Regions from separate parts of the Homo sapiens genome. Here all the other regions are reported to be linked to region 3. The links are microRNA targets in miRTarBase. Many come from high-throughput screens and were not tested one by one. Region 3 holds a microRNA gene; each other region holds the end of a gene's coding sequence.
The links. The annotated mature microRNA hsa-miR-6840-3p reads GCCCAGGACUUUGUGCGGGGUG and lies in region 3 at 3,440-3,461, shown strand. An mRNA with a match to its seed (bases 2 to 7 or 8) in the 3' UTR can be bound and repressed. Matches are read on the target gene's strand: a 7mer-m8 pairs with bases 2 to 8, a 7mer-A1 pairs with bases 2 to 7 and ends in A, and an 8mer does both.

Region 1 (4,840 bases), not on the chromosome of region 3:
AGGAGTGCTTTAAACTCTGGTGGTAACTCTGATTTAACAAATGCTAGGAAGACCTGCTTTTTGCTAGGTCCTGTGCAACACTGTAATGATAGTGATCCATAAAATGCACTCCTAGATGGAGGCTCAAAGTCTAGAAAATCTTTCCAAATTTAATCCTCATAAACTCCCTGTTAAATACGTGTGAAACTATTTTGTGCCTTAATATAGAGAAGGTAACTTGTCCAGTGTGCAGCTAGTGTGTGGTGGAGTTGGCCGTAAACAGGTTCTAAAATCCTTGCTCTTGGTGAGGTGTCTCTTGCTAATATCCCTTTACCTTTTAATTTTAGTTCTTAACACATAGCCCCTTATGTGTTGTTTTTTACTGGGAATTTTCAAAAATATGGTTAAAATATTCTAAGACATTTTGCAAATCAAGAAATACCACTATTCCTGGATCCTAACAATAAATTAGAGCTCTCATAAGTGGTCTCCTGTGGGGATGACTTCATAGTTTATCTTGACTCAGAAGGAGGACAGATAACTACTGGCATGAAATTGAAGGATTATCCTGCTTTAAATGAATTTCACCTTTTAAGTTTTACTCTGTATTTGTGTATCCTGTAGTTTCCTGGGTTCCCTGATTGCTTTGCTTGGTTCTTTACCATGTTTGCCTTCTCTGTGCTAAATAAAAAATGAAGTTCATTTTAAAGAAATGATTAATTTGGTATTTTCCTTTCTAGGATCAAGCGTGCTTTCCTTATCGAGGAGCAGAAAATCGTTGTGAAAGTGTTGAAGGCACAAGCACAGAGTCAGAAAGCTAAATAAAAAAATGAAACTTTTTTGAGTAATAAAAATGAAAAGACGCTGTATGTATGACTTTTTTTTTTTCTGTTGTAATGTGTTAGTATACAGATTTTGTTTCTGTATGGTATTTGGGGACCCTATAGTTTTTAGCAGATTACTTTTTCTTGTTTTGTTTGTTGTTTGTTTGTTTTTGGTTTGGTTTGGTTTTTTTGAGACGGAGTTTCTCTCTTGTTGCCTAGGCTGGAGTACAATGGCAGGATCTCGGCTCACCGCACCCTCTGCCTTCCAGGTTCAAGTGATTCTCCTGCCTCAGCCTCCCAAGTAGCTGGGATTATAGGCATGTGCCACCATGCCTGGCTAATTTTGTATATTTTAGTAGAGACGAGGTTTCTCCATGTTGGTCAGGCTGGTCTCAAACTCCCGACCTCAGGTGATCTGCCCACCTCGGCCTCCCAAAGTGCTGGTGTTAAGGTGCGAGCCGCAGCACCCAGCCAGTGGGTTACTTTTTCTGAAGAAACAGTTGGTGGTCACTGATGGCCAGAATTTTTTTGGTGACAGCTCTACCGCTGCATTGGAGCATAATGTCCTTCTCTTTGTGGGCTGAGACTTCAGGGTGGTTTGGGAGGAATGGCCCTTCTATTTGAAACTTTAATATCCCTTTGATCCTTACTATGGTATCTCCTTTACGTCAGCAAGTTTCATAGGATAGAAACCTTGGTATTCTAGTTCCTTGGAATGGAACCTTTTTAAGATTGTTTTTAAACCCTCTGTTCTTTTAGGTCACTTCAGTTCAAAAATGGTATCTTGGAGAGCTCAGAACTCCTTATTTAACAAATGAGTGAGCTACTATATATAAAACCTTGGGTCAAGGGTATAGTTTCTGATCTACATTGGATTTATTATCCAGGCCAGAATGTTAAAATACAGACCTCATTTTTCTTGGGAACTATGTAGTGTTTCTGCCAGCTCAGACAAGGTTTCACTCCTGCTGCCCAGCCTGGAGTGCAATCTTGGCTTGCTGCAACCTCCACCTCCTGGACTCAAGTGATTCTCTGCCTCAGCCTCCCAAGTAGCTGGGACTACAGGTAGGCACCACCATGCCTGGCTCATTTTTGGTTTTTTGAGAAACAGTTTCACCATGTTCCTAGGCTGGTCTCAAAACTCCTGGGCTCAAGCAGTCTGCCTGCCTCAGCCTCCCAGCGTGCCAGGATTACAGGCATGAGCCATTCTTCTGCCCAACCTGTTGGCTGACAACCTTTTTTTTTTTTTTTTTTTTTGAAATGGAGCCTTGCTCTTGCCCAGGCTGGAGCGTACTGGCTCGATTTCGGCTCACTGCAACCTCCACCTCCTGGGTTCAAGCAATTCTGCCTCAGCCTCCTGAGGATTACAGGCGCCCACCACCACACCCGGCTAATTTTTGTATTTTTAGTAGAGATGGGGTTTTGCCATATTGGCCAGGTTCATCTTGAACTCTTGATCTCAAGTGATCCGCCCACCTTGGCCTCCCAAAGTGCTGAGATTACAGGCGTGAGCCCTTGCACCCGGCCAACACCATCTCTTAAAGCCATAACAAGCTTTATTCCAATCTGAGTAGAGAGCAGAGACCTTGAGCCATCATGGAATGCAGAAGCTGAAAGTACCTGGGGAGTTCAGTAAATTTTGACTATTTTCCTCAGTTGAGGAAAATTTACCTACTAACTGGCATGATGTAACTACTTAAGCAGAGGAGAGTTACCGCTTAGCTATACATAAGAACATGCTTTTCTGGCTGGACGCCGTGGTTCATGCCTGTAATCCCAGTACTTTGGGAGGCCAAGGCGGGCGGATCATGAGGTCAGGAGATCGAGACCATCCTGTCTAGCACGGTGAAACCCCGTCTGTACTAAAAATACAAAAAACTAGCTGGGCGTGGTGGTATGCGTCTGTAATCCCAGTTACTCGGGAGGCTGAGGCAAGAGGATTGCTTGAACCCGGGAGGCAGAGGTTGCAGTAAGCCAAGATCGCGCCACTGTACTCTCGCCTGTGCGACAGAGCGAGACTCGGTCTCCAAAAAAAAAACACCTTTTCTTAGGCCAGACCCAGTGGCTCACCCCTATAGTCCCAGTCTCAACACTTGGGATGCTGAGGCAGGAGGATCACTTGAGGACAGGAGTTGGAGACCACCCTGGGCAGCTTGGCAAGACCCTGCCTAAAAAATAATTAAAAAATAAGAATACCCCTTAAGGTAAAAGGCAAAAAAAATGGGATTTCATAACACCTTTACTGTACCCCACTGCCAGTTAACTTGTTCTTGGTATAAAAAATTTTTAATTAGTGTTTTGCAGAAGAGGAGTCACAGAACTAGTAAGTGGCAAAGCTGGCAGTTGAACTCCCTTTTAAGAATTTAACCGCCAGGCGCGGTGGCTCACGCCTGTAATCCCAGCACTTTGGGAGGCTGAGGCAGGTGGATCACCGGAGGTCAGGAGTTCGAGACCAGCCTGACCAGTATGGTGAAACCCCGTCTCTACTAAAAATAACAAAAATTAGCCAGAAGTGGTGGCATGCACCTGTAATCCCAGCTATCAGGAGAATGAGGCAGAAGAATCGCTTGAACCTGTGAGGCAGAGGTTGCACTGAGCCGAGATTGCACCACTGCACTCCAGCCTGAGTGACAGTGAGACTCCTCAAAAAAAAAAAAAAAATTTAATTTTAACCACAGTACACTTGATTGGCTGTGTGCCTGACTCCACCAAATTTGTTTTAGTCCTCCCAGCAACTCCAACAGCTTTATTCCCATTTTACTGATGAGAGAACAGACACAGGTTATAGAAAACCCAGAGCCATTTGTATTGTTGGTAGGATTTTTGCAGCTGTGTTAGTGAATAAGTGTAATGACCGGGCACCCTAATAAATGCTAGCATAATCAATGATAGCTGGGATCCCTGTTGTCAACATTCATAGTCTCAAACGATTGAGATACATTAGCTTTCTCCAAACACCTGCCAATCCCAAAGATTGTTAAGCAACCAGGATAATAGAATTAATTATCTTGTATAATGTTTAATCACAGTATTGAAAATATAAAACGGGGATAGAATTGAAAAGCTTGAATTCTAAGGCAGATTTACATCACTTTCTCATGATTCAGGCTTATATATACTGCACCAAGCAGTTCTGTGACTGTGTTTTATTGTATTTGATATAACCATCTAAAAATTGGCACTTTTAATAATATACTCAGACAATAATGTGGCTTAAAACTTAAACTAATTGGCTGCTCTGTAGGCCAGTCTAGTTTTTGAAAGGTTTGAGATGTAATTTCTGAAAAAATTGCTGTGGAAGAGAAAGCCTATTTGCCACCCCAACCTGAGTTCTTGCTGGTGGAAGGAGGCTCCTCCCTCTCCTTGCTGCTCCAAGTTAGGTAGAACAACATGACTGGACACAGGCTCTAGCTGGTGGGAACTAGCAAGTTTCAGCAAAATATGAAATGGGTGACCTTTGAGAAATGTAAGGAAGTTAAAGAATTGAGGTGTACATTCTTTTCCAAGAATTCTTGGTATGTTAAATGGTTTTACTTAACAAACAGCTTTGTAGACTATTTGGAAAGTTTGGAAAAATAGAATGATAAAAAATCTCAATTTCACTACTTACTATTATTATTATTATTTTGGAGACAGAGTCTCACTCTATCACCCAGGCTGGAGTGCAGTGACGCGATCTCAGCTTACTGCAACCTCCACCTCCTGGGTTTAAGCCATTCTGCCTCAGCCTCCCGAGTAGCTGGGATTACAGGCGCCTGCCACCACATCTGGCTAATTTTTGTATTTTTAGTAGAGACGGGTTCGCCATGTTGGCCAGGCTGGTCTCGAACTCCTGACCTCAGAATGTCCGCCCGCCTCGGCCTGCTAAAGTGTTGGGATGACAGGCTTGAGCCACCACGCTGGGCCACTACTCAGTCATTTTTAATAGTTGAATGTTTTTCCTCCCATCTTGTTTTCCATGAATAAAATAGACATTTTAAGTCAAAACTGGAAGCCCACTGCATATATAAACTTTTAACTCCTTTTTTTCTCCCACA
Region 2 (4,840 bases), not on the chromosome of region 3:
AATGGTGGAGCGAGTCGGGAATCTCGGCTGCTGCAGGTGGAGCTCAGCTGGACAGCCTGAGGTACTCATGGACCCTGAGCGTTGTGACATGTAAAGGAGGGTGGCTGCATCTTCCTTTGGTGTTTGGTCTAAAGCAGTGGTTCTCAAAGTGTGGTTCCAGGGCCAGCAGCTGCAGCTCCTGGGAACTTGTCAGAAATGCAAATGATTGGTCTTGCCCACTCCTGATGAGAAATTCTGGGGGGTGGGGCCAGCAATCTGTTTGTAAAAGCCCTTCCAGGTGATTCTGATACTCACCGAAGTTTGAGAACGACTGGTTTAGACGCTTGGTCACTATACCCTCAGTGGATGTGAGCCCGGCCCAGCATGGCCAGTATATCAAGAATGTTTTCCAGGTGGGTGACAGGGTGGGTGGTGATGACAGTGACTGTCCCAACTCACTTCTCCAGCCTCAAAACCCTGAAGAGGGCCCAAGTAGCAGATTCTGAAACAAAGCTGGCTCCAAGGCAAGAGGGCCCCGAGGCACATCACAATGATCTACCATATTCCCCCCACACCCCACAGGGCCGTGCTGGGCCCTTCTGGATGTAAACACCTCTGGCCATGCACAGCACAAGCTCCCTGACAGAAATCACACAGGGTCCACCCCAGAGCCCCAGCAATAGCAGGTGCCCCATGCAGGGGGCTAGAAAGAAGGCAGAAAAGGGCCTCACCTGAAGGGGAGGTGGTCAACACAACCCCAGGGTGCCCCTCCCTGCCCAGGGTTGCTCTGGGAGTGGGTGTGACCTGAGGGGTGACCTCCATGTGGACATGAGATTCTGCACCCTGCATGAAGGCCCTGAGGGCTGAGGGACAGTCCCTGCTCTTGCTTTGGGGTCAGTGTTTGTACCTGGGGTGACGGGCTGGGTGGTCGTCACGGGCCTTAGCCCTTTGGGCTCTTGGCCACTGCCTGAGCCCCTGCACCCAGAGGGTCCAGCTGTCAGCCTGAAATAAGCCAGGCTTCTGCACCCCCGGCCCATGTGCCATGGGTGCTGCTTTGTGACAGTGCCCCCTGAGTGACACTCTGTTCCTTAATGACAGCCTGATGGCTCCTTATGGAGATGGAGAACTGGGGGACACTGAGGGGAGGGGTTCCCGGCCCAGTTTTCTTCCTTCTCCCCAGCTGGGGGTGGCAAGACAACAGCCATGACCACTGACAAGCAAGTCTTAACTTTGCCCAGCCTTAATTTCCTTTTATAAAATGGGGGAAATAACACCCTCTTGCTGGGGTAACTGCGAGATAAGTATTTATGGTGACAGATTCTAAGTGCACAGCAGGACCTTGGTAAACACAAAAAAATCCCTGGACACACTCCCCACTTACTCTGCCTGAGGGGCTCCTGGAGATGGGGCTAGGGTGCCGGGGAAGCAGGAGGGAGAAAGACAAGAACGGTCACAAATATTCCAACCCGTCAGCCAAGGCCACGTTTCATTCTTGCCTGCTGTCCTGACACAGGTCACCCAGGGGACTCGGGGACGCGCCCTTCTCTTGGTGTCTGCCCCTGCGAGCTCAGGGAAGGGCAGCATGGAGTGTGCAGGGCAAGAACGTGCCCGTGCCAGCTGGGTGGGATCCCAGCACCTGATGCTGCTTTCCTAGGGCCCTGGTGTGCAGGGGCCTTTTGCCTGCACGGGACTGAAGGTGACATTCCACAGGCGTGTCCTCTCTCTCCAAGGAACTCAAGGCTGTAGCAGCCTCCAAACAGGGGCCCGGGAGGAATTGACCTGGGTATGGATCTGTACCCTCGTCAGCAGGAGGGGCACACCCCGCTGGGGACCACATCGTTGGCTCTGGACTCCAACCATTGTACACTCCCAGGCAGAACCTGCCGTATCCTGGGCCTCTGTTTCCTCTAACCCTGTCTCATCTCCCAGGCTGTTGGCATGGACAAGGAGGTCAGATTTCCAAGCCCTGGGTTGTTCTACCACTGTCTGCCGCTTGGACAAGCCATCTTTCAAGAGGCAGTCTGGCTGGACGACACACAGGGCAGGAATTGCAGCTAATCCTGCCCCAGTCAGGCTGGACCAACCATCCCATGGGGCTGGGGCAGATGGGGCAGGCTGTCCTGGGCCTGCCTTCAATGATAAGGCTGTGCACAGGGCACCTGCCTGTCACCTGTCTTTCATCCCCACCAGGGCAGACAGGTAAGGCCCCAGCACCCCCTGCCCACTGCCGCCTCCCCCTGGCACCTCGGCAGGAAGAACATGGCTCTAGCCCAGTACCCTCTTTCTCTCTCTCACCACTCTCCCTCTGTCGTAAGAGTTGTCAGTTGTGATCTCATCCTTCAGAGAACTTGGGAGTCATAGTCAGTTTTTGATTATCTGCATGAATCCCAGGAGGTTGGAGGGCAGCAATGCTAATCACGCACTATACCATTTCTCTCGGCCTCTGTGCAGTCTGGGATATCTGGTCTTCGTTTTAATGAATTTGCATTGGCAACCCCAGGGCCTTTTAGGCAGGGGAGATAAACCAGCCTAGGCTCCAAGAAGCCACTGGAGAACACCCAGAGAAGAGGAGGCAACCGGCCCCGAGGCTGGGCTTCCCTCTGTCCATGTGGGTACTTCCTGTGCTGAGGATGCAGTTTCTGGACAGTTCAGGGCTCTGTTGGGGTCAGCACTGGGTGGCCTTGAGGCCACTCCTATGTATGGGAGAGAGAGCACGCCTGCCCCAGGACTGGCCTAGGTCAGCAATGTGCTCATCACAGTGCAATCTGGATCAAGCAGGGAGGTGAGCTGGGACCTCGCTCAGCCTTGGCCTTAGCACAAGGTGCCCCCCTTCATGGGGGGAAGTAAGAGGGTCCCGCTCTGGGGAGAAGTGCAGGAGCTGGGGAGGGTGGAAGCCAGGTGTGGGGTTCTTGTGTAGTGAATGGGCTGCCCCTTTGTAATAGCCATTTGGGGGGGTCCCTATGGGTGTTGTACAAAAAGCTGCCAGCATGGATACTCTGTATTTTCTAGGATTTTCTTTCTGTTCTCCCTTATTACTGGGGAAAGTTCTTCCTGAAAATTCCGCAAATTCCCTGCTGAACTTAGTGATGCAAGAGAGAACCCAAGGAAAAAGCTCTGTCCACTCTAGGACAGGTGGGAAGGGAAGCAGAGCTGGACCCCCTGGAAGCAGTGTGGTGGTGGCTACGGGGTCAAGGAGAGGGCCCCAGGAAAAGTGAGGTTCAGGCAGATGCCCCTCTATTCAGAGCTGCCCCTTCTCAGCAGCTCCGACTTTGCAGGGTTGCGAGTTGGTCCACTCCAGGAGATGTTTGACACCCATCAACATTAGGTGCTGAAGATGGTCTGAAACCTGGTGTTCCTGAGAATCAGGCCCCGGAACAGGAGATTCCCGAGGGGCGTATCACTAGAGGCCAGGGCTTGGGGCCATGGTCTCCCAGGGAGGTTTCTCCCAGGAAGGCAGCTAGGCAGGTGCAGGGCTCTGCTCCTAGTGCAGCATGTGCTGGTATGGCCACCTTACCCCCTGCTTCCTGCCAGGGCGGCTCTACCCAGCCTGTGGCTGCCCTACCCAGGCCTCCCCACTCCTAGGCCCTTCAGGAAGGAATGAGGCCAGCAGGACATGGCTTTCCAGGTGAGGCAGTGTGGAGAGTGGGCAGGTCAAAGGGCAAGGTCTTCTGGGGGAAATGCCAGCCCTCCCTGCCCCACCCCATGCTTTTTCCAGAAACAGCAAGGTCAGGGCTTCTGGGCATGGGTGGGGGAATCCCGTGCTGAATGCAGGAGTGCCGGGGTTCCTGGGTTTTCTGCCGATTGTTCCAGGTTCAGGAGCTGGGAGGGAGCAGAGAACCCAACCGCCACCCTCCCGTAGTCCACGGGTGCCCCCGTTCCTGGTGAGGGGCTCTGGTTGTCTCCTGAAAGGATCATTTCCCTGCCCAGGATCTGGCCATGGGGGCTCAGAAATGGAGGAGAGGGGGCCGAGGGTCTCTGCCTGGGTGGGCACAGAAGCTATGGTCTCAGGCACTCGGTGGATTCGCAGGAGCTAGGCACAAAGGAGGGGGCATCTATGGCCCTAGTGGAGCTGGTGCTAACTCTGCAGGCCTTGCAGATGGCATGTGGCCACATGTTGTCTTGAGGGGCAGTTGGAAGAGGAGGTGGTTGGCCATTAGTAAAAATGCCGCTGGAGCCTCTGGTGCAAGCAGCAGGTGAGAACCATCCCGCAGATCTGCCAGGTGGAGAGAGCAGAGGAGCAAAGAGAAATCAGAACTCCTGGAAGCTGCCGGCCCTCAGGGCCCTGGAGCAGTGCTGCTCACTCGAATACCCTGGGGCCTGGGCAAAGGGCAGATTCCTGCTCAAAACTGCTCAAAATGTCAGGGTGGGACCTGAGGTTCTGCATTTCTGACAAGCTCCCAGGTGATGGTGGTGTGCCTGGGGGAACCACATTCTGCCATCTACTATCCAAGAGCAGGGCTTTGCACACTTTAATGGGCATGAATCATCTGGGGACCTCCTTATTACAATTCTTCAGGCCTAGTGGCGGCCTGAGAGTCTGCATTCCTAGCAAGCTCCCAGTTGATGCTGCTGGTCTGTGGTCCTAGATCTTCTCCAGAGATGGCCTGATTTAATTAGGCCCTAAGAGTAATGTTTCCACTCCCTCATCAGAGCTGTCTGAAGTGGACTGTCTCTCTAGGAAAGAGTCTGCCTGTGTTTTGCTGTCCTTAGACTCTAGAGCAAAACTCAGGTCCATCTTCGATGCTCTGGCTGGTGTACAGGAGCCATGGGGGAAACTGAGACTCTGGGAAGAGCCTCCTGAGCTGTCACCCTGTCAGTCAGCATAGAATAAGAGCTGGTGAGCTCACCCTGTCAATCAGTG
Region 3 (4,840 bases):
GAGCACGAGCATGGGTGAGGAGGGGGGCTGCTTTGGGGATGAGGTGGCAGGGGTAGGGGGGGCCAGGGCTGGGCCCAAGCTGTACAGACTCACTTGATCCTCCTTCCCCCGCGCAGGCACCCAGCCAGGCCTCCCAGGCTGCTCTCCACGTCCCTTATGCCACTATCAACACCAGCTGCTGCCCAGCTACTTTGGACACAGCTCACCCCCGACAGGGGGCCGTCCTGGTGGGCATCACTCCCCACCCACACCGCACACTGGCCCCAGGGCCCTGCTGCCTGGGCCTCCACATCCATCCCTGCACATGGCAGCTTTGTCTCTGTTGAGAATGGACTCTACGCTTAGGCTGGGCAGAGGCCTCCCTGCACTGGTCCTGGCCTCACTCTTTTCCCTGACCCTTGGGGCCCAGGGCCATGGAGGGACCCTTAGGAGTTCAATGAGAGAGACCATGAGGCCACTGGGCTTTCCCCTTCCCAGGCCTCCTGGGTGCCACCCCCTTACGTTATTCTTGGGCCTCTAATAAGTGTCCCACAGGTGCCTGGCCAGGCCCACCTGCTGCAGATGTGGTCTGTGTGTGTGCATGTGTGGGTGTGTGTGGGCACAGGTGTGAGTGTGTGAGCAACAGTACCCCATTCCAGTCGTTTCCTGCTGTGACTAAGTCAGCAACACAGTTCCTCTGACATGGGCCTTGGCTGTGCTTCTTTGGGGGTGAAGAGATTGGGGAGGAAGTCTCCACCCCTGGGAGGCAGAAGCCAGGTGAGAACCAGAGTGGGTTGGGGCCTCCTTGCAGGGCTGGGTTTGGCCCAGGGAGAGGGCAGTGTCCCAGTCTTAGAGATCTGTCCTGGCTTCTTGGGGTGGCGGGGGGTTGGGGGAGCTTCCTGAGGGACACCTGTGGCTTCCTAGACAGAATTGGGGGATCCCAGCGGGATGGTCCCTGCTGCAATCCCACCATGTCCTAGGACAGCAGCAAGGGTTCCTGGGGCTTCAGCCTGAGAAAAGTCCCTGTGATTTGACCTGGCGTCCCTCTGCCGGGCTCCCTGCTGTGGCCTGGGCTAGAGTCCTGATGCCCTCCTTCCACAGCTGGCATCAGGCAGGGCTGGAAAGTAGGAGGACTTGCCTGAAATCTGGCTGGATTTCAGAGCCTTGCTCTGTCACCCAGGCTGGAGTGCATTGGCACGATCTTGGCTTACTTCAACCTCCACCTCCCGGGTTCTAGTGATTCTCCTGCGTCAGCCTCCCGAGTAGCTGGGACTACGGATGTGCACCATCGTGTCCGCTAATTTTTGTATTTTTTTTTTTTTTTTCAGTAGAGACGGGTTTCACCATGTTTGGCTGGGCTGGTCTCGAACTCCTGACCTCAGGTGATCCACCCACCTTGGCCTCCCAAAGTGCTGAGATTACAGACTTGAGCCACGGTGCCCCGCCTGAATAGGAGCTTCTTAATCAAAATTTCAGCATGGCTCTGGGTCAAAATTGACCAGCTGATTTAATAAGTTGATGTAAAAATTTTACAGTCAGCTACCCCTGGGAGGGGGAGTCTCTCCCTAGTCAGTGAGGCACCAGATGCCAGAGCATTGGCAATGTACAAGGGGCTCAGCCCTGTGGCTCATATGTGTAATCCCAGCACACTGAGAGGATGCCTTGAGCCTGGGAGATTGAGGCCAGCCTGGGTAACAGTGACACCACGTCTCTGCAAAAAAGAAAATTAGGGGAGAACTGTGGTGCGTGCCTATAGTCCCACCTACAGGCAGAGCGAGACCATGTCCCCCACTAAAAAGAGGCCAAGAATGCAGGAAATATAGATAATATGGGCCCTGTGATGGGTGGAGGCCAAATAGATCAATACAGAATTGAAGAAGACACAGAGCACTTGTATTTCCCTTCAGGCATAGCGCGCTGGCTAGGACTCCAGTACCGTGAAGGGAGGCAGTGAGAGCAGACATCTGTGCCTCATTCCTGATCTCAAGGGGAAAGCAAGAACAAGGTGGGTGCCAAGGAGGGGCAAGGGGCTGGGGCAGGCATAGACGTGGCTGGTGAGGAAAGGAGGATAGTTGTTGGGGGAAGGTGGGGACATACAAGCAGCAGTTCTCAAAATGGGCAGGGTCCTGGCCCCCTCCCTGCCTCTGCTGAACACTGCATCCCATGCCTCTCCCATGGCCACCTGCTGGGCTAACGGGCTGGATTTAGACTCTGCCCATGTTGGAATCATGCCCTCCTCCAGGGCCGGTGCCTCCCAAAACCCCCCTCTGAGAGAGAGCCACAGCCCCAGGCTTAGCCCCAGGCCCTGTCACTGCTGTTGGGGGAGGGAGGATGAACCATCCGGGAGGCCTCACACCATTCCAGAGCAGAAATCCTGACACAAAAGGAATCTCCCATGGGGGTTCAGCTGGGTCCAGAGCCCGGAAAGTGACATAAACACGCACCTTGCATCTAAGGAGAATGCACGTGGCGGTACCGGGCCTGAGGCCCCTGGGGAGTATGTACCCTCCAGAGCTACCCAGAGGCTGTTGGCTAAAAGTTCTATGTGGCCCCCTCCTTGGGCAGCCTGGTAAGCAGGTGACCTTCTAGCTGGGTCCCATGGGCCACGGGCAAGGCAGGAATGGAACGAAGAGTCAGTCCTCAGTGGCTGGGTGTTGTATCCCATGCCTATAATCCCAGCACTTTGGGAGGCTGAGGTGGGCAGATCACTTGAGGCCAGGAGTTTGAGACCAGCCTGGCCAACATGGTGAAACCCTGTCTCTACTAAAAATATAAAAATTAGCTGGGTGTGGTGGCACACACCTGTAATTCCCAGCTACTTGGAAGGCTGAGGCAGGAGAATTACTTGAACCCAGGAAGCAGAGGTTACCGTGAGCCAAGATCACACCATTGCACTCCAGCCTGGGCAACACAGCGAGAATCCATCTCAAAAAAAAAAAACAAAAAGTCCTCAGGCAGGGTGGGCCACCCTCTTGAGGCCTTGCCCAAACAGCCAGGGGGTCCCTTGTCCTCTTTTCGGCCCACCTTTGCAGGTGGGACCAGTTCAGTCCAAAGCCCCGGTGCCTCAGTTTCCCTGTGGGTTGAACAAGGAGAATGAGGTGTATAGGGCCTGGCTCAGACGGAGGGGTTTCCTGAGCATGGGGAGCCTGTTTCCTCAGACCTGTGAAGGGAAGGAGGGTGGATCGGCCTGACTGGCCCTGGGAAGCACAGAGGAGCCTACTGGGACCAGGGAAGAGACTGACAAGAGAAGGGAGGCCTGTCCCTGCCTGCTTCTGTCTCAAGAAGATTGTTATCACTTCCTCTGGTGAAATCCTGCCTTCCTGTCCCCACGGCCCCTCAGCTGATGCCACCTTACTCTGGAGAGGATGGGCAGAGCCTCCTATGGAGGGAGCCCTGTGGGTCACCAAAGCTCCAGTGACCACCCCCGGGCAAAGACCTGCAGATCCCCTGTTAGAGACGGGCCCAGGACTTTGTGCGGGGTGCCCACTGTTGCTCTGAGCCTTCACTTCCTCAGGGAGGCTTCCTCAGGATCTCGAACCTGCGGAAGGAGGACCAGTCTGTGTACTTCTGCCAAGTCCAGCTGGACATACAGATCAGGGAGGCTGTCGTGGCAGTCCATCAAGGGGACCCACCTCACCATCACCCAGGGTGAGTCCAGCTGCCCTGGCACCAAGGAACCTTCCTGGTTCAGCCATAGGCTCAGGTGTGTGGAGGGAATGACCTGAGGGGCTGTATGAGGGAACAACCTCCTGGGGCTCCCCTATGCCTGAGTTCCTGCAACTCAGAAGTTGAGGCCCAGAGATCCAGGTAGAGGGGGCTCCAGTCCTGGGACTGCCCTGCAAGTCATGTGGCCTGGGACAGGGCTTCTCCAAGCTCTGTCCCCTCCTGTGTAGGGCAGGGAGGTCAGAGGGGACCCTGCAGATCCAGTCTCATGTCTGGGGGTCAAGGGGTGGCCTCGAGAGGGACCAGTCTCTGTGTAGGGGACCGTCAGCCCCCTCACCCCTTGAGCAAGACTGTGGTCCCTGCACCAAGGGAGCAGGCCTGGGGTGGGAAGAGGCCAGCTGGGCTGTGGTGGTGCCTGGGGACTGCATGGGAGCCCCTGCCAGGGAGGGAGAGGGACAGAGGACAAGCTGGGGGCTCTGGTGCTTGGGCTGGGGGCTGAGCGCCTGTGACCTCCACTGGCTTCCTCCTTCTCCTCTCTGAGGACTGAATCTGGGGTGCAGCAGAGCACAGACTCAGGCCCGCCTTTCCTCTCCCTGAAAGAGCCTGCGCTGGCCTTGGACAGAGAAAGGGATGAGAAGTGAGGCTGAGTGCGGTGGGGTCTGCAGGGATCCAGGTGGGAGGGGCCCAGCCAGCCAAGGTGAGGCCCAGCCCCTCAGCAGGAAGATGGGCACTGGGGCCCTTGGGCAGGGCTGACTTGACACTTTTGTGTGACTTGAGCCACTGTGCCCAGCCTGAACACCCTTTCCTGGTAAAACACTCCACAAACCAGGAAGAGAAGGAATGTACTGCAACAAAATAAAGGCCAGTCATGCAAGGCCCATGGCTGAAAGTCTTTCAGTCATTTTAGATGAAAGACTGAAATCTTTGCCTCCAAGATCAGGAACAAGAGAAGGATGCCCGCTCTCACTACTTCTATTCAACACAGGATTTGAAGTCAGGCCGGGCACAGTGGCTCACGCCTGTAATCCCAGCACTTTTGGAGGCTGAGGCGGGCAGATTACTTGAGCCTATGAGTGTGAGACCACCCTGGCCAACATGGCAAAACCCCATCTCTACTAAAAAAAAAAAAAAAAAAAGGATTTGAAGTCCTGGCCGGAGCAATTAGGCAAGGGATAAAAAGGCACCTAAGGCCCTTTTG
Region 4 (4,840 bases), not on the chromosome of region 3:
TCAAGGTGTCACTCTGTTGTCCAGGCTGGAATGCAGTGGTAGGATCTCAGCTCACTGCAGCCATGAACTCCCAGGTTCAATTGATCCTCCCACCTCAGCCTCCTGAGTAGAGGGGACTACAGGCATGTACCACCATGCCTGGTTAATGTTTGTATTATTTGCAGAGACGGGGTTTTGCCGTGTTGCCCATGCTGAACAATATTTTTTTTCTTTTTTGAGACAGGGTCTTATTCTGTCACCCAGGCTGGAGTACACTGGTGCAAACACAGCACACTGCAGCCTCAGTCTCCCCTGGGCTCAAGTGATGCTCCCACCTCAGCCTCGTGAGTCGCTAGCACTACAGACACATATTACGAAGCCTGGCTAATTATTTTTATTTTTTGTAGAAACAGGGTTTTGCCATGTTGCCTAGGCTGGTCTCAAACTCCTGGGCTCAATCTGCTCACCTTGGGCTCCCAGGGTGGTGGGATTACAGGCATGAGCCACTGCACCCGGCCCACAGATTCTTATTGAGGCCTTTGTAAGTAGGCAGTTAATGCTCTATTGCCACCATTTCCCACTGTATTTTTTATAAATACCAATTGTTTGGTCAATCGACTTCTATTTATGAAACTGGAAAAGAATAATGATGATCCCAAATGTCTAACCTCATTGCTTGCCTTTATACAGAATCCTCACTATGGATGGGCTCATTGAGGACATTAAGCATCGGCGGTATTATGAGAAGCCATGCTGCCGGCGACAGAGGGAAAGCTATGAAAGGTGCCGGCGGATCTACAACATGGAAATGGCTCGCAAGATCAACTTCTTGATGCGAAAGAATCGGGCAGATCCGTGGCAGGGCTGCTGAGGCCTGTGGGTGGGACACCCAGTGCGAAACCCTCATCCAGTTTTCTCTCCATCTCTTTTCTTTGTACAATCCCATTTCCTATTACCATTCTCTGCAATAAACTCAAATCACATGTCTGCAAGAAGGCCTCCAAATATAGAAACAATCCCATTAGTCAGCAGTGGACCCTGTCTTTTATTAAGTGAAAGAAGAAACTGAGTCTGAAAGTACTCTAGGAGTAGAATGGTATTTGCCAGGGACTGGAGGAGGGGGCAGTGAGGAGTTATTGTTTAATGGGTACAGAGTTTCAGTTTGGGCAGATGAAAAAGTTCAGGAGACGATGGCCTGGCATGGTGGCTCACGCCTGTTATCCCAACACTTTGGGAGGCTGAGGCGGGCGGCTCACTTGAGGCCAGGAGTTTGAGACCAGCTTGGCCAATGTGGTGAAACCCCATCTCTACTAAAAATACAAAAAAAAATTGGCCGGGCGTGGTGGTGCACGCCTGTAATCCCAGATACTTGGGTGGCTGAGGCAGGAGAATTGCTTGAACTGGGGAGGAAGAGGTTGCAGTGAGCCAAGATCATGCCACTGCACTCCAACCTGGGCGACAGAGTGAGACTCCATCTCAAAACAAAAAAACGGAGATGGATGATGAATGGTGATGGCGGTTGCTCAAAAAGTTGAATGTACTTAATGCCACTGAACTATACCCTTAAATGGTCACGATGGTAAATTTTGTGTTTTACTACAATAAAAACTTTTTTGAAAGTCCAGGAGAAGTAAGGAATTTTTTTTTCTTTTTTTTAAGAGGAAGTCTCGCTCTTGTCCCCCAGACTGGAGTGCAATGGTGCAGTCTAGGCTCACTGCAACCTCCGCCTCCTGGGTTCAAGTGATTCTCCTGCCTCAGCCTCCCCAGAAGCTGGGACTACAGGCACCTGCCACCACGCCCAGCTAATTTTTGTATTTTTAGTAGAGACGGGGTTTCACCATGTTGTCCAGGCTGGTCTCGAACTCCTGACCTCAGGTGATCCGCCCACCTCGGCCTCCCAAAGTGCTGGGATTATGGGCATGAGCCACCATACCTGGCTGGTAAATTTTTTTTTTTTTTTTGTAGATGGAGTCTCGCTCTGTTGCCCAGGCTGGAGGGCAGTGGGACAATCTCAGCTCACTGCAAGCTCCGCCGCCTGGGTTCACGCCATTCTCCTGCCTCAGCCTCCCCAGCAGCTGGGACTACAGGCACACGCCGCCACGCCCGGCTAATTTTTGTGTTTTTAGTAGAGATGGGGTTTATCTGTGTTAGCCAGGATAGTCTCGATCTCCTGGTCTCGTGATCCCCCTGCCTTGGCCTCCCAAAGTGTTGGGATTACAGGCGTGAGCCACTGCGCCCGGCCGGAAAATTTTTTTAATGTAGTGAAATATGTCTACCATTTCCTACCCAATTTTTTTGAATCCCCAAGCAAAATCTTACTGAGAAAGCATCTATTACTTTTTATTAAACTGTTCCATGTTAGGTAGAGAGGAGAAGATGCATGTATGTATTTGGAATAAATTCTGCTTCTGAAAACACCTATCAACCAGACTAGAGTGCTGGAATCCTTGCCCAAAGAAATTCTTAAATCTACCCTAATGTTCATTCCTGTTTTCTGTCCTTTTAGTTTTCCTAACAGAGACTAAGAGAGGGATGGTGGAGAAGAAATAAAGCAATAGATGGGTGGGACTCAGTAGATAGTAGGAAAGAGGGAATGGAGCGTTGAGAGAGAATGGCACAGAGCCAGAAATACCCACAAAGCAGTGCTTCTCAAAGTGTCAGATCAGCAGCATCAATTTCACCAGAGGGATTGCTTGAAATGCAAATTATGGGACCCTACTTTAGATCTTCGATATTGGAAATTGAGGTTGGAGCCCAGCAATCTATTTTCACAAGCCTTGCAGGTGATTCTGATGCCTGCTAGAGTTACAACCACTGCCCTTTGCAGTACTCAAAGAGACTTCAAGTGGAGGTTCCCACCATCACTGCCTCTACCCAGCAGTCACTCCTGATTATTTTACTCTTGACAGCTGCGGAAACTGACCACTGTGGGAAGACCAGCTGCTCTGCTTTTTCTCCTGCTGTTTCCTCCACCATTGGTTGGCTGACAGCCGTGTTGCTATTATTAAGAGTCGGTGCCAGGCCGGGTGCCATGGCTCACGCCTGTAATTTCAGCACTTTGGGAGGCTGAGGCGGGCGGATCACGAGGTCAGGAGTTTGAGACCAGCCTAGCCAACATGGTGAAACCCTGTCTCTACTAAAAATACAAAAAAATTAGCTGGGCGTGGTGGTAGGCGCCTGTAATCTCAGCTACCTGGGAGGCTGAGGCAGGAGAATCACTTGAACGCAGGAGGTGGAGGTTGCAGTGAGCCAAGATCGCGCCTGGCGACAGAGCAAGACTCGGTCTCTTTTAAAAGTTGGTGCTGGCCAGGCACAGTGGCTCACGCCTGTAATCCCAGCACTTTGGGAAGCCGAGGTGGGCGGATCACAAGGTCAGGCGATCGAGACCATCCTGGCTAACATGGTGAAACCCCGTCTCTACTGAAAATACAAAAAAGTTAGCGGGGCATGGTGGCGGGCGCCTGTAGTCCCAGCTATTTGGGAGTCTGAGGCAGGAGAATGGCGTGAACCCGGGAGGCAGAGCTTGCAATGAGCCGAAATCGCGCCACTGCACTCCAGCTTGGGCAACGGAGCGTCCCCAAAAAAAAAAAAGGAAAAAGAAATAGATCTGCTCCTTTCCCTCATTTTGGAGAAAATCTGTATACAGGCTGCCTTCAACTTTGTTCCCTTTATACAACCTAGTCTTAACAAACAAGATATGACACTTCTGAGTCACCTTTAAATCTGAATCTGAGGCCGGGCGCGGTGGCTCACGCCTGTAGTCCCAGCACTTTGGAAGGCCGAGGAGGATGGATCACGAGGTCAGGAGAGCAAGACCATCCTGGCTAACACGATGAAACTCCGTCACTACCTTTTTTTTTGTTTTTTGTAGACGGAGTCTCGCTCTATTGCCCAGGCTGGAGTGCAGCGGCGTGATCTCGGCTCACTGCAAGCTCCGCCTTCCGGGTTCACGCCATACTCCTGCCTCAACCTCCCGAGTAGCCAGGACTACAGGCGCCCGCCACCGCGCGTGGCTAATTTTTTTTTTTAATTTTAGTAGAGACGGGGTTTCACCGTGTTAGCCAGTATGGTCTTGATCTCCTGACCTCGTGATCCACCCGCCTCGGCCTCCCAAAGTGCTGGGATTACAGGCGTGAGCCACCGCGCCCGGGAGGCTGAGGCAGGAGAATGGCGTGAACCCCGGAGGCAGACCTTGCAGTGAGCCGAGATGGCGCCACTGCACTCCAGCCTGGGTGACAGAGCGAGACTCCGTCTCAAAAATAAATAAATAAAATAAAATAAATCTGAATTTGGTCTTTAGTACATTTTAATGATATTGAGCCATAATATAGTGTCATCTACCACAGTGGTAAGGCATGTTTGTGATAACAGAATCAGGCCTGTTACTTGGCATTATTCTCCTGGGGCTAAAGTTGCTTCTGAGCTCCCTCCAAAATACTAAGAGGTGGCTGAGATTTGAAATTTTCTTTGTCTCTAAAAATTATCCCCCGCTTGTTTTAATCTTCAGTCCTATTGCCCATGCTCCCCTAGAGCAATGAACAATGATGGGTTTTAGCAGCTAGCCAGTTGAGAGGCCTCATAAATGCGATAAGTGGCTGGATAAAGTTCCAATCTGCTTATGCTGTGATGATAGGGAGAAAAACTTTCCACTCCTTGCTCTGGGAAGCTAGAAGATAATTTGCATGGTAGTTTAATGAGTAGGGGTTGCACTAATCTTTTAATCCCTGCATTGATTTCAGAGGAGGGGTGGTTTGCTGTTTACCCAGTTACAGAATGATAGGTAAGTACCTCCTACCCTAAACTTGGGCACCTATGAAATCTCTTACCTGTTTAGTGAAGTGCCTCTGACAGGCCTGCTCCA
Region 5 (4,840 bases), not on the chromosome of region 3:
AACCCACAATACCTCCGAAATGTGCCTGTAATTCATATATCTCCGTTCTATGGGTAGCAGCTAAAAGGTAATTACATTTTATGAGAATGCAAGGTTTTTATTTTTTACATGTCTGAAATAGAAATGCAGTTCTGTATAGTCAACATAATGAATGGGAGAACTAAATTGTTTAGAATATGACTCTAAAACAAATGTTAATATAATCATTCAGAATTTTTTTTCTAAGTTCAGTCAACATTTCTATATATGCCATGTATTCCATCTGTTAAAATTTACCATTGAGTCATTTAAATATTTTTAGGCCAAATTTACTAGAGTCCATTAAAGAACAAGAAACATTAATTGTAGTATAAAAATCTATAGAGGTGGTATACTATAATAAAAATAAAACTGTGTTGATAAAACAGTGAAGAGGTTGGTAGCTAATAAAGTGAACCACTATTAACCTGTCATTCTTTTTTGTTTGTTTAAAGTAAAGGGAAAATTATGCACTTCAAGAAGCGTATTCAGAATTTTTAGATTTGTCTCAACACTCTATAGAGTTAGGTCTCCTCTTCTCACATGGAGTTCATTTACTGCTGACGATAGAATAAGCCTTGAGCCTGATAAATTATAGATGATTTTGGCATGACCTCATCTAAAAATATTTTATCTCCTTTTTTTTTTTTACTGTATTTTCAATTAAATCAAAAATAACATATTTATGAGGTATAATTCATTGTGTTTTATTTTACAGACAAGTGATACCAGCAAAGAGTAAGGTCTATGATAGCCAGGGTCTCCTGATTTTTAGTGGGATGGACCTCTGTGACTGCCTGGATGAAGACTGCTTAGGATGTTTCTATGCTTGTCCTGCCTGTGGTTCTACCAAGTGTGGAGCTGAATGCCGCTGTGACCGCAAGTGGCTGTATGAGCAAATTGAAATTGAAGGAGGAGAAATAATTCATAATAAACATGCTGGATAATCTGCGGTACCAAACTATGGAGCCTTTAAAGGTCTTTATTTCTAAAAATCTGTTACTCTAAGATACATTTTAAGCTTGATTATCATATGACAAAGATTTTAAAACCATCTCAGTGTGCCCTAATTTTTCATCTTGGGTGCTTTAAGATTCACTATTTGATATAAATTCAGATAGGCTATTTTTCAGTAGTCAGCGTTAAGCCTGTCTGGATCAATATAAACAAGTAGGGTGTAGGCAGTCCTCTATTTGCATGTTTCCCATGGGCACAAATTTCAGTGACCTAGATTTAGTTTAAATACCAGTTTCCTTACCAGGAAGGAAAGAAAACTGGTAAGGAAACTGTTGTTGTTAAAATCTAGGTTAAAATTTTAGTTAGCACATTGTAACTGAGTAATTACATGAAGTACAAACCTCTCTGCTAGCTCTTCAGTCTACAAATCGCTATGTAAATAACAGATATGCTTCATGATTGTGACCAGTCATGTTATTTCTTTCAAATTCTTCCAGTGGTTTGTCCCTGTGCATCTGTTAATTCAGTTCACGTACAGCAGAGCATGTAGTTATGCTGTCTCTCTGTCATCTACTTGACATTCTATAGAAGTGAACACTCGAAAGAACTGGTCAACAAAGATGAAAGTGCAGCAAAGCAATGAAAAATGATAACACTGGAAGTGAAATTTTAATCAAACATAAATGAATTTGTAGAAGAAGTCACTGACCATGGGAATGTTGTTCTTGCTGCTGTGTATTCATAGGAGCTTAGTGAAGGCAAACTTACCAACACAAATAAGCAAAGTGGTTGCAATAAAGACAGATACGTCCCAGAGGAAGTGATGGTTAAAAAAAAAAAACTTTACATTAAAAGATATTTAATGTGAATATAGAAATATTTCACAACATTGAAAGCACAAGCAATAAAAGGGTGGAAGCTGACCCAAACTTAGAAGGAGTATGGCAGTTTGCCGTGAACATAAAAGATGCTTACTCAGTATGGTAAGTTACTTGCCAGAAAAAAAGGCAAGCCCTATTCAAACTACTTTGTTTTTACAATGAAATAAAACACTTTAATTCTATTTCTAATGTTTTAAATTACAGTGTACTAAATATTTTTAAACATTTTTGCATTTTTTTCTACATTTATAACTGGTCTTAAGAGTTTTTAATATTTGAGCAGAACCTTAAAGGTCATGGAACAATCATCATTTTCCCTATTGATTATTAAGATTGCAGGACCATTTTTATGGTCCCACAGTACCATGTGAAATGAGGATCGCTTGTAGCTGGGAACAGTGCTTACTTCAGGGAAAACTGATTTTGATAGAACCGACTAGTTGAGTATTAAACTGTTTTGGAAATAATTTATATATCTAAGTGCTGAAATATATTTCTCTTCTCCCCACTTATTCAAATAAAAAAGTTTTAATACTATAAACTTTTCATTGTTAGCGCCACGCAGTCCTTGTCAAGATTGTTCTGGGGGACAAAAACTTGATGTATAAAGCATGAATATACACACAGTACTTAAACAGATACCATATCTGTGGTATTAAAATTTTGGGGGTGGTTGATTAGGATTGTAAAAAGACTCCTTAGGGAGTGAGGATGGAAAAGAGAAACACTGGTTAATACAGAGTATAAATAAATTTTTTGGAAATTGATTGCATCTTGATGTTGGAATTTGCTTGGATGCTATTTGGAGGATGGGGGAATGGTATCGTCTCTTTGCTTTTATTTTATTTTTTTTTGAGACAGTCTTACTCTGTTGCCCAGGCTAGAGTGCAGTGGCTCAATCTCGGCTCGCTGCAATCTCCATCTCCTGGGTTCAAGTGATTCTCCTGCTTCAGCCTCCTGAGTAGCGGGGACTGCAGGCGCGTGCCACCACGCCCAGCTTATTTTTTTGTATTTTTAGTAGAGACGGGGTTTCACCATATTAGCCAGGATGGTCTTGATCTCCTGACCTCATGATCTGCCCTCCTTGGTCTTTGCACTTTTTTAAAGACAGCTGTCATTTTGTCTAAAAGCTTTTTGTCACATGGGACATTGCCACTAATCTGGGTTTTGGGGGGTTTTTTGCATCCTAAATACAGTCCTTCAGTTAAATCAAATGTGCTCTTAGCAATTTGAAAGATTTTGTAGCCATTAAAACTCAATTTATGCAGCCAGTTTGAATTGACCATTAGAGGGTTTGTTTGTTTTTTAATTTTTTTGCTTTTAAAATGACTGGTTTTACTTTGAGGGAATGGCATATTCAGCCTTGGAATTACATATTTTTAATAATTTTAACTGTTCACTCACCTGTTACCAGAAGTACATACAGTTAGCTTGTCAGTTCCTTGATCTGTATGATTTACCTGAACACTGGCAAAAGAATATTTCAGCTTTATTCACTTAAGTCAGATGCTAGATTACTTTCTCTAAAGTAAGGAAATACTTCATTATTGAGGACATAAACACTCCAGTTTTATCTGAACATTAGGATCATTAGATCTTAATTGTTTCTACCATCTTTTAGTTTTTCTAAGTATGACAGTGCTTAGGCTTTTCGTAGGGACAAATTAAAATCAGGTTTTTTACTTAAAATAGGAATATTTTTGATGGAATGAATGACTTTAAAATTGCCATATTGCAGCATTTTTTAGAACAGACCTGTAATTTTTCAAAGACTAATACGTTTTTCAAAGGAAAATATTCTTGAGCAATTTTGCTAATATTTGTTCATCATGCCCATTTAGGGAAGCAAACTTTTAATGAGCATACAAAATGTTTACAGAGAAAGGTGTATCTGATTTACAGTAAGCTGTAATAAAGCTATGTTTTGGAAAAATTAAATAATGAGCCCACTTACTATTTTGTAATATAAAATTACAGAAATATGGAATATAATGAAATCATCTAGAGCCTCTTTATATTGTGCATAAATATTCCAGGTGACTATAAATTATTTTAGAATTAATCTAAAAAGCAAAGTTTTATAAACAATTTCTGTTGTGTGTAGATCCTAGTAGAGAAGTTAGGTCACAAATGTTGGTCTCACACAATGTTGGTCACAAATATTAAGGTAGAAATGCATGTATATATTTGAATAAAATGTCATCTCGTGATCTTTTCCTTTTTTTTAAAATATGGAAATAGCTATTTACCTTGTAACATCATATATAGGATTCTTCTCTTTTTAAAGTATTATGTTTAGTTCTATATAACAGGCTGTTATACAACCTGACAGTCTACTCTAAAACTGCCTCCCTGGCGTGATTTCAAGCAAGTAATTTTTAGCAAGTGAATTTTGAAATATCCATATATATATATACAGTGATTCATTATTAAAAACATAATTTTAGTGAGTTCTATTATAGTCTTAACTTTTTGGAAGTAAAAGACCCCTGTGAGAAGGTGATGAAAGCTATGAACTAACTTCCCAGAAAAATATCTGCATTCATGTACTCACAAATATCGATGTTCAGAATTCCTGAACATGTATTGCAGTACCTGGGTAGTATGAAATATTCTGTAAACCATTTTACTTTTTCAGTTGAGTATGGCTAAAGTGTCGGTTGGTTTGTTAAATAGTGTTGTGGGTGGCTGTTTTCAAGAAAAACAAAACCAGAACAGCTCAGTCCTTGAGCTATGACTGCCCTGAAAAATCAGATCCCACTGGCCTCATATACCCCTTCCACCTCCAAAAGGTGATTACACATTGAGTCACAATGTAGAAAACTGATGTCTTATCTGGACTGGATTTTGGTAGAGGTTTTCTACCTCCATGATGTTTGCCCTGCTTATAGCTTAACATTCTTGTGCAAAATTCAGGACACTGCCTTAGTTTTGCTGACATCTGGTATCTTCATGAAAAAAACTGCTCTCAGCTATTACTACTT
Region 6 (4,840 bases), not on the chromosome of region 3:
TAGTAGAGATGGGGTTTCACCATGTTAGCCAGGATGGTTTCGATCTCCTGACCTCGTGATCCGCCCACCTTGGCCTCCCAAAGTGCTGGGATTACAGGCGTGAGCCACCACACCTGGCCAAAATCCTATACATTAAATGTTTGTCTTACCCAAACCCCAAAGTTAAATTGTAAATATAAAACCCACAGCGGGGGTGAGAAAACTGGAGAACAGTCTTTCTCTATTTTCCTACAATCTTCAAATAAGAGGTATCTGCTTATATAAGACAGGTTAGTGGCAATACCTGGCTTAGAAAGTTTCTAGATTTATTTCTAGCTCTCTACATACTGTGATAAAGTCCTAAAGTTTAAAAATACCCACCAATATTACAGGCATGCTGCTTTATAAAATATGCCCTAAAATTCTAGCCAAAATACTTCACTTTCTGTAATACTTAATATGTGAGATAAAACTTTTTAGCTCAATAAAAAAGTATTTAAAACAACTCATGTTTTAAACACATTAGTCTACTCTAAATAAATGTATACTATTGTACTTTAAAATGTATCAAAGTAAGGTGTTTTCTATTTTTTAACCATCCTCAATTTTTTTAAAATTAACCAATCTTATTTCATCTCTAAAGGGCTTAATCACATGAAATGAACAAATTCCTCTAAACATTTTCCTTAAGGAAAAACTGAAAGGAGATATAGTGAAATGGTATATGACAGCCATGGTAACTCTAAGGTATACATAAGCAGGGGAAAAAATGCTCAAAATGTAACAAATTCTGTATATAAACAGTCATGCCAAACACAGATTTGTACCAATAAGGATACTGAATTAGATGTTAACAACAGTGTTTTCAGAAAAAGATACAGCAATGAGTAAAAAGCACTATGCTATTACAAATGATTTACAGAAACAACTAATTAACCTAACATAAATCCCCTTAAAATGCAAACCATACATAATCTTAACATGAATTACAGAATAAAATATTTTCCTAGTAAATTAGGTGTAAAAATCCAAACTTGCTTTTTTAAATATAACACCCAGAAAATAAAGAATACTGTTCCTTTTTTAACATGTATTTCTCAAAATAAGATTCACCATGAACATTATTTTAGATATTTTTACATCTTCTTTAGCTAACCAAGTGAAAAATCCAATATACACAAATAGGTACTTTCATCAGTACATAAAACAGCAATAGGTAGCAAGGATAGAAATCAGAATACAAGTTCAATTGAATAAATACAATACTAGTACAGAGACACCCATTTTTAACCCACAATGAAAAATCTGAGCCATGAATAGGTTTTCCATTTTGAATCTAACTTCTAGATGATCTGTATTTTGACCTTAAAGGGGCCAAAATATTTAATATGGGTGAAGCTCATGTTCCATTACCTGTAAAGGTCTAATGCAACAGAAAAATGGTCATTTTACATTGGTTAGAATTTTTAACTAGGTCTTTCATATTATTTTGTTTAGCACATGACAGACTTATACACATATTTTAAAAAATCAAACATGGAATTTCTATATACATCAAACCTTTAACAATGTCTGTCTCTGAATTGCTATTATAGTGTTCAAAATTATACAAACAAACATCCAGTAAACAGCATTTTATTTTATGACACTCTGTGTTAATACAATAAATATACAAAACTTCCAACCCACTGAAACATGCAACATTAGAGGGACACATGGAGGGCATTTCTGTAGAACCATGACAGTCACCATGATGGCAGCGCAGTATTAGTTACTGACAAAATATACAAACATCTCTAGATAAATAATCCAAGTCCCAAATTACAAATCACTGAGTAATGACTTTCCGGTGTTCAAACTTTAGTTTGAAATAAAATTGCCATAATTTAATATTACAAAATGATAAATGACACGGATGACTGCTGTGTGAAGACCATTTTATGACTATGATTTCATGACTGTGATTTTAGTACTAAATATAGAACACTTAACAAATGCCAATCTTTTGCTGAGTGAAAATTTAACAATTTACTGAGAGAAAAGTAAATATAAGAATTTAAAGTTCCTTTCATACTTGATCATACTATAAGCATTGCCATCATTTCAATGCACATATATTTTTAAAAAACAATTTTCTCTCTCAAACTCATATTAAATAACTGGATTTTAAAACATTTTCCCCATCCACACAAAAAAAGATATGTGGGTTCTAATTATTCTTTGCTATTTAATAATGCTACCTTTGAAGATTTCTACATAATATAAACATTCCAATTCTGAAGCAAAGTATTTCAGCATTTTTCAAAAGTCTCTAATATATCTTTTGTTTGTAGTGTACAGGAAAAAATGGACTTGGGATATAAGTTAATGGTGAATATAGGTGCACTTGCTGTATTTTGTGGTTAATGTTTTGAATGTATGCAAAATCCACACTCAATAAAGCACACTGATAAAATAGATTTCCAATAAGACTACAGGCTCTGAAAAACAAACTGGCTAAGTTGGTTGAGAACATAGGTAGAAATTATCGCTGATTAGAAATATTTACAAAAAATAGCTTTAAATTCATACGCTGAAGAATAAAAGAAATGTCTTCCAAGTATACCTGATGTCAATAAGATCCCAAATAAATCAAATGTAAACACCATCTGGATGGATCTGTGTTACCTAGTGACATGCAGCGCTGCTTCATGGATAGTGAAAACTTGGCATCCCACCTCTAGCATAAAACTTTTTCTGTAACTACAGGTTTGGGGAGAATGAAAGTGATTTAACTATTTATGCCTATCTGATTTTTTAAAAAATAAGGATTTCCAGCCTCTAATATCACAATCCTTACTTAAAATCTAATTGAATAATCACTATCATTCTGCAATCTTAATTTAGTTAAAGACTTTCAAAACACAGCAGCATGACTTACAGATGTCTTTGAGTCATTTATTTAATCAGTGGTAAAATTGATTCAAAGGTTGAACCCAAGAATACTATAAGAATGAAGTTCTGTGCTGCATAGTAACAATTTTAACGTGATTATCTTAATGCAGTTAACTGTATTTATATTTTCTTGCTTGGTGCAAGTTAAATGCTTTTTTTTTTATTGCTGGAAATTTTAGATATATTCAGTCTGTCTCAAAAAGTGAAAGACAGGTGCATTTAGGGATTCAAGTATGTGAAAAAATGCCAGGGTCTTTTTATGTTTAATGCCACTGGAGATGAAAAGCTAAAAGGAAAATCCCTTAAATACTGTACAATCTTTTTAGACAACAGTTAGGCTAGCCTTTAATACCTCTGTTAAAAATCACACACACACATCCCCAAAAAAGAGCTGCCAGACACAATCTTAGTTGTAACCACAGAATATACCAAAGTTTTCATATAGCAAAATGTTACTATATGACTACCGAAATTTTTTTAAAAAGGAATTATTACCACTACTTTCTACTGCATTAACTACCTTCTCTTTTGGATAATGTACTGCATATTATATAAACTTCTTATATTGCACCCCCAAACTTTTTATTTAAAAGAAATTCTTGCAGAATATCATTTCTGTGATTCCATTAACCCCTGAATCCTACAACCATAAGCAGTACAGAAGCCAAAACACTAATTCTTTTAATATAAGAAATGTGGTGCCCATGCAAATTAGAGATTGTTATCAAAATATCAGCTATTCTAAAAAAAAGAAAAGAAAAAGATGACAAATTTTACATTATCTACTACAAAATGCACATAGGCTCTTCACTGGTGACTGAAACAGCTAAAAAGCAAGCCAATTTAAAATCCCTAAGTCTCTGCTGGCCTATTTCTTTCAATATAAATAGGGAAAAAGGAATGAAACATGGTTTACTTTTCCAATGTGCAATCCTTATCTCTAAAGATTCTTGAAAGAACTACTGCAGTTAGTATTAAATGCGTTTTTAATCATAAGTACCATTATTAATTTTCAGTGGGTCACCACTGAAATAATTCACTGAATGTCATCCCCCAAAAATATGGAGAATATTTATTTAGCATGTAATATTTTTTCTGCAAGGGGCACTGAAATATTAAGAAACTATTAGGTAAAGTAATAAGACAAGGAAGTTTTCCTGGTTTTAGCCCATGCACAAGTGAACAGGAAATATCCATGCTGTCTGTACTGTGTGTTTTGAACATAAAAATATTTGTAGAATACAGTAACTGGAGAAAAAGGTACAGTCAAAAGGTAACAGTGTATTGTTTGAAGATTCTTAAATCTGGTTACCCTTGAAAGCATTCTGAGCTGCACTAGATGCTGCAGTTGAAGCTGCATTTGCAGCTGCGGTCTGGACAGTTTTGTTGGACATCACACCTGTTGCAAACTCCTGTTGGGCCTTCTCAAAACTAGCACCTGTTGTGCGATATAGTCCATGTACCTACAGAGGCACAAAAAAGTGGGAGAAGGTAAGTAGCAACCTACGCATTCATTTCCAGCAGCTCTTAATCTCAACATTAATCAAACATAAAAATACTAGATTGTAGTCATGATTCCTAAGATCAAGAATATTAGCCACCAAACTGACACACAATAATTGTATTTAAACATTTTCTTAATATAGGTTTTCCTTTTCTTCTCCAAGCAGAAGAGATAATTATGCTAATTTAAACCAAAAATAAAGAACTTCTTAGCCAACTTCAAAAAGTTGTATTTTCCTCTGCACCCAATTAGTCAAGTGAAATTATTACAGCATTACAATGAAATGGTTTAAACATAATAACAAGAAACAATACATTAATTTATTACCCCAGACTATTCAGAGAGAACAGTACCTTATCTATTTCCATTTTATCTACATATACACCACAGGCCCTGTTATAATCAAATGAGATCATTTTATCA

Region 1: miRTarBase lists RPL34 as a target of hsa-miR-6840-3p. The part of its 3' UTR that is shown has no 7-base or 8-base seed match.
Region 2: the mRNA of TSPAN11 is a reported target of hsa-miR-6840-3p. Seed matches in the 3' UTR shown: 7mer-m8 at 3,902-3,908, 8mer at 3,423-3,430, 7mer-A1 at 3,408-3,414, 7mer-m8 at 3,181-3,187, 7mer-m8 at 2,701-2,707, 8mer at 2,365-2,372 and 2 more.
Region 4: miRTarBase lists MRPS21 as a target of hsa-miR-6840-3p. The part of its 3' UTR that is shown has no 7-base or 8-base seed match.
Region 5: miRTarBase lists ARL14EP as a target of hsa-miR-6840-3p. The part of its 3' UTR that is shown has no 7-base or 8-base seed match.
Region 6: the mRNA of SCAMP1 is a reported target of hsa-miR-6840-3p. The part of its 3' UTR that is shown has no 7-base or 8-base seed match.

Annotation. Positions count from the first base shown.
Region 1 is chr4:108,624,409-108,629,248 of GRCh38, forward strand. It overlaps RPL34 (ribosomal protein L34), which reads left to right. Exons shown (of 5, transcript NM_001319236.2): 5 at 720-962. The coding sequence ends at 804. Among named protein-coding and RNA genes, the nearest start is that of RPL34, 6.3 kb to the left of the region's middle.
Region 2 is chr12:30,991,208-30,996,047 of GRCh38, reverse strand. It overlaps TSPAN11 (tetraspanin 11), which reads right to left. Exons shown (of 8, transcript NM_001370302.1): 8 at 1-4,192. The coding sequence ends at 4,133. All of the region lies in intron 2 of TSPAN11-AS1 (TSPAN11 antisense RNA 1), which reads left to right. Among named protein-coding and RNA genes, the nearest start is that of TSPAN11-AS1, 12 kb to the left of the region's middle.
Region 3 is chr7:100,353,257-100,358,096 of GRCh38, forward strand. MIR6840 (microRNA 6840) reads left to right here and starts at 3,395; the gene lies at 3,395-3,465. It overlaps STAG3L5P-PVRIG2P-PILRB (STAG3L5P-PVRIG2P-PILRB readthrough), which reads left to right. Exons shown (of 17, transcript NR_036570.1): 10 at 1-14; 11 at 117-227; 12 at 1,887-1,984; 13 at 3,494-3,627. It also overlaps the pseudogene PVRIG2P.
Region 4 is chr1:150,307,379-150,312,218 of GRCh38, forward strand. MRPS21 (mitochondrial ribosomal protein S21) reads left to right here. Exons shown (of 3, transcript NM_031901.6): 3 at 670-1,601. The coding sequence ends at 850. Among named protein-coding and RNA genes, the nearest start is that of PRPF3, 12 kb to the right of the region's middle.
Region 5 is chr11:30,335,831-30,340,670 of GRCh38, forward strand. It overlaps ARL14EP (ARF like GTPase 14 effector protein), which reads left to right. Exons shown (of 4, transcript NM_152316.3): 4 at 737-2,393. The coding sequence ends at 965. Among named protein-coding and RNA genes, the nearest start is that of ARL14EP, 15 kb to the left of the region's middle.
Region 6 is chr5:78,475,040-78,479,879 of GRCh38, reverse strand. It overlaps SCAMP1 (secretory carrier membrane protein 1), which reads right to left. Exons shown (of 9, transcript NM_004866.6): 9 at 1-4,376. The coding sequence ends at 4,212. Among named protein-coding and RNA genes, the nearest start is that of SCAMP1, 120 kb to the right of the region's middle.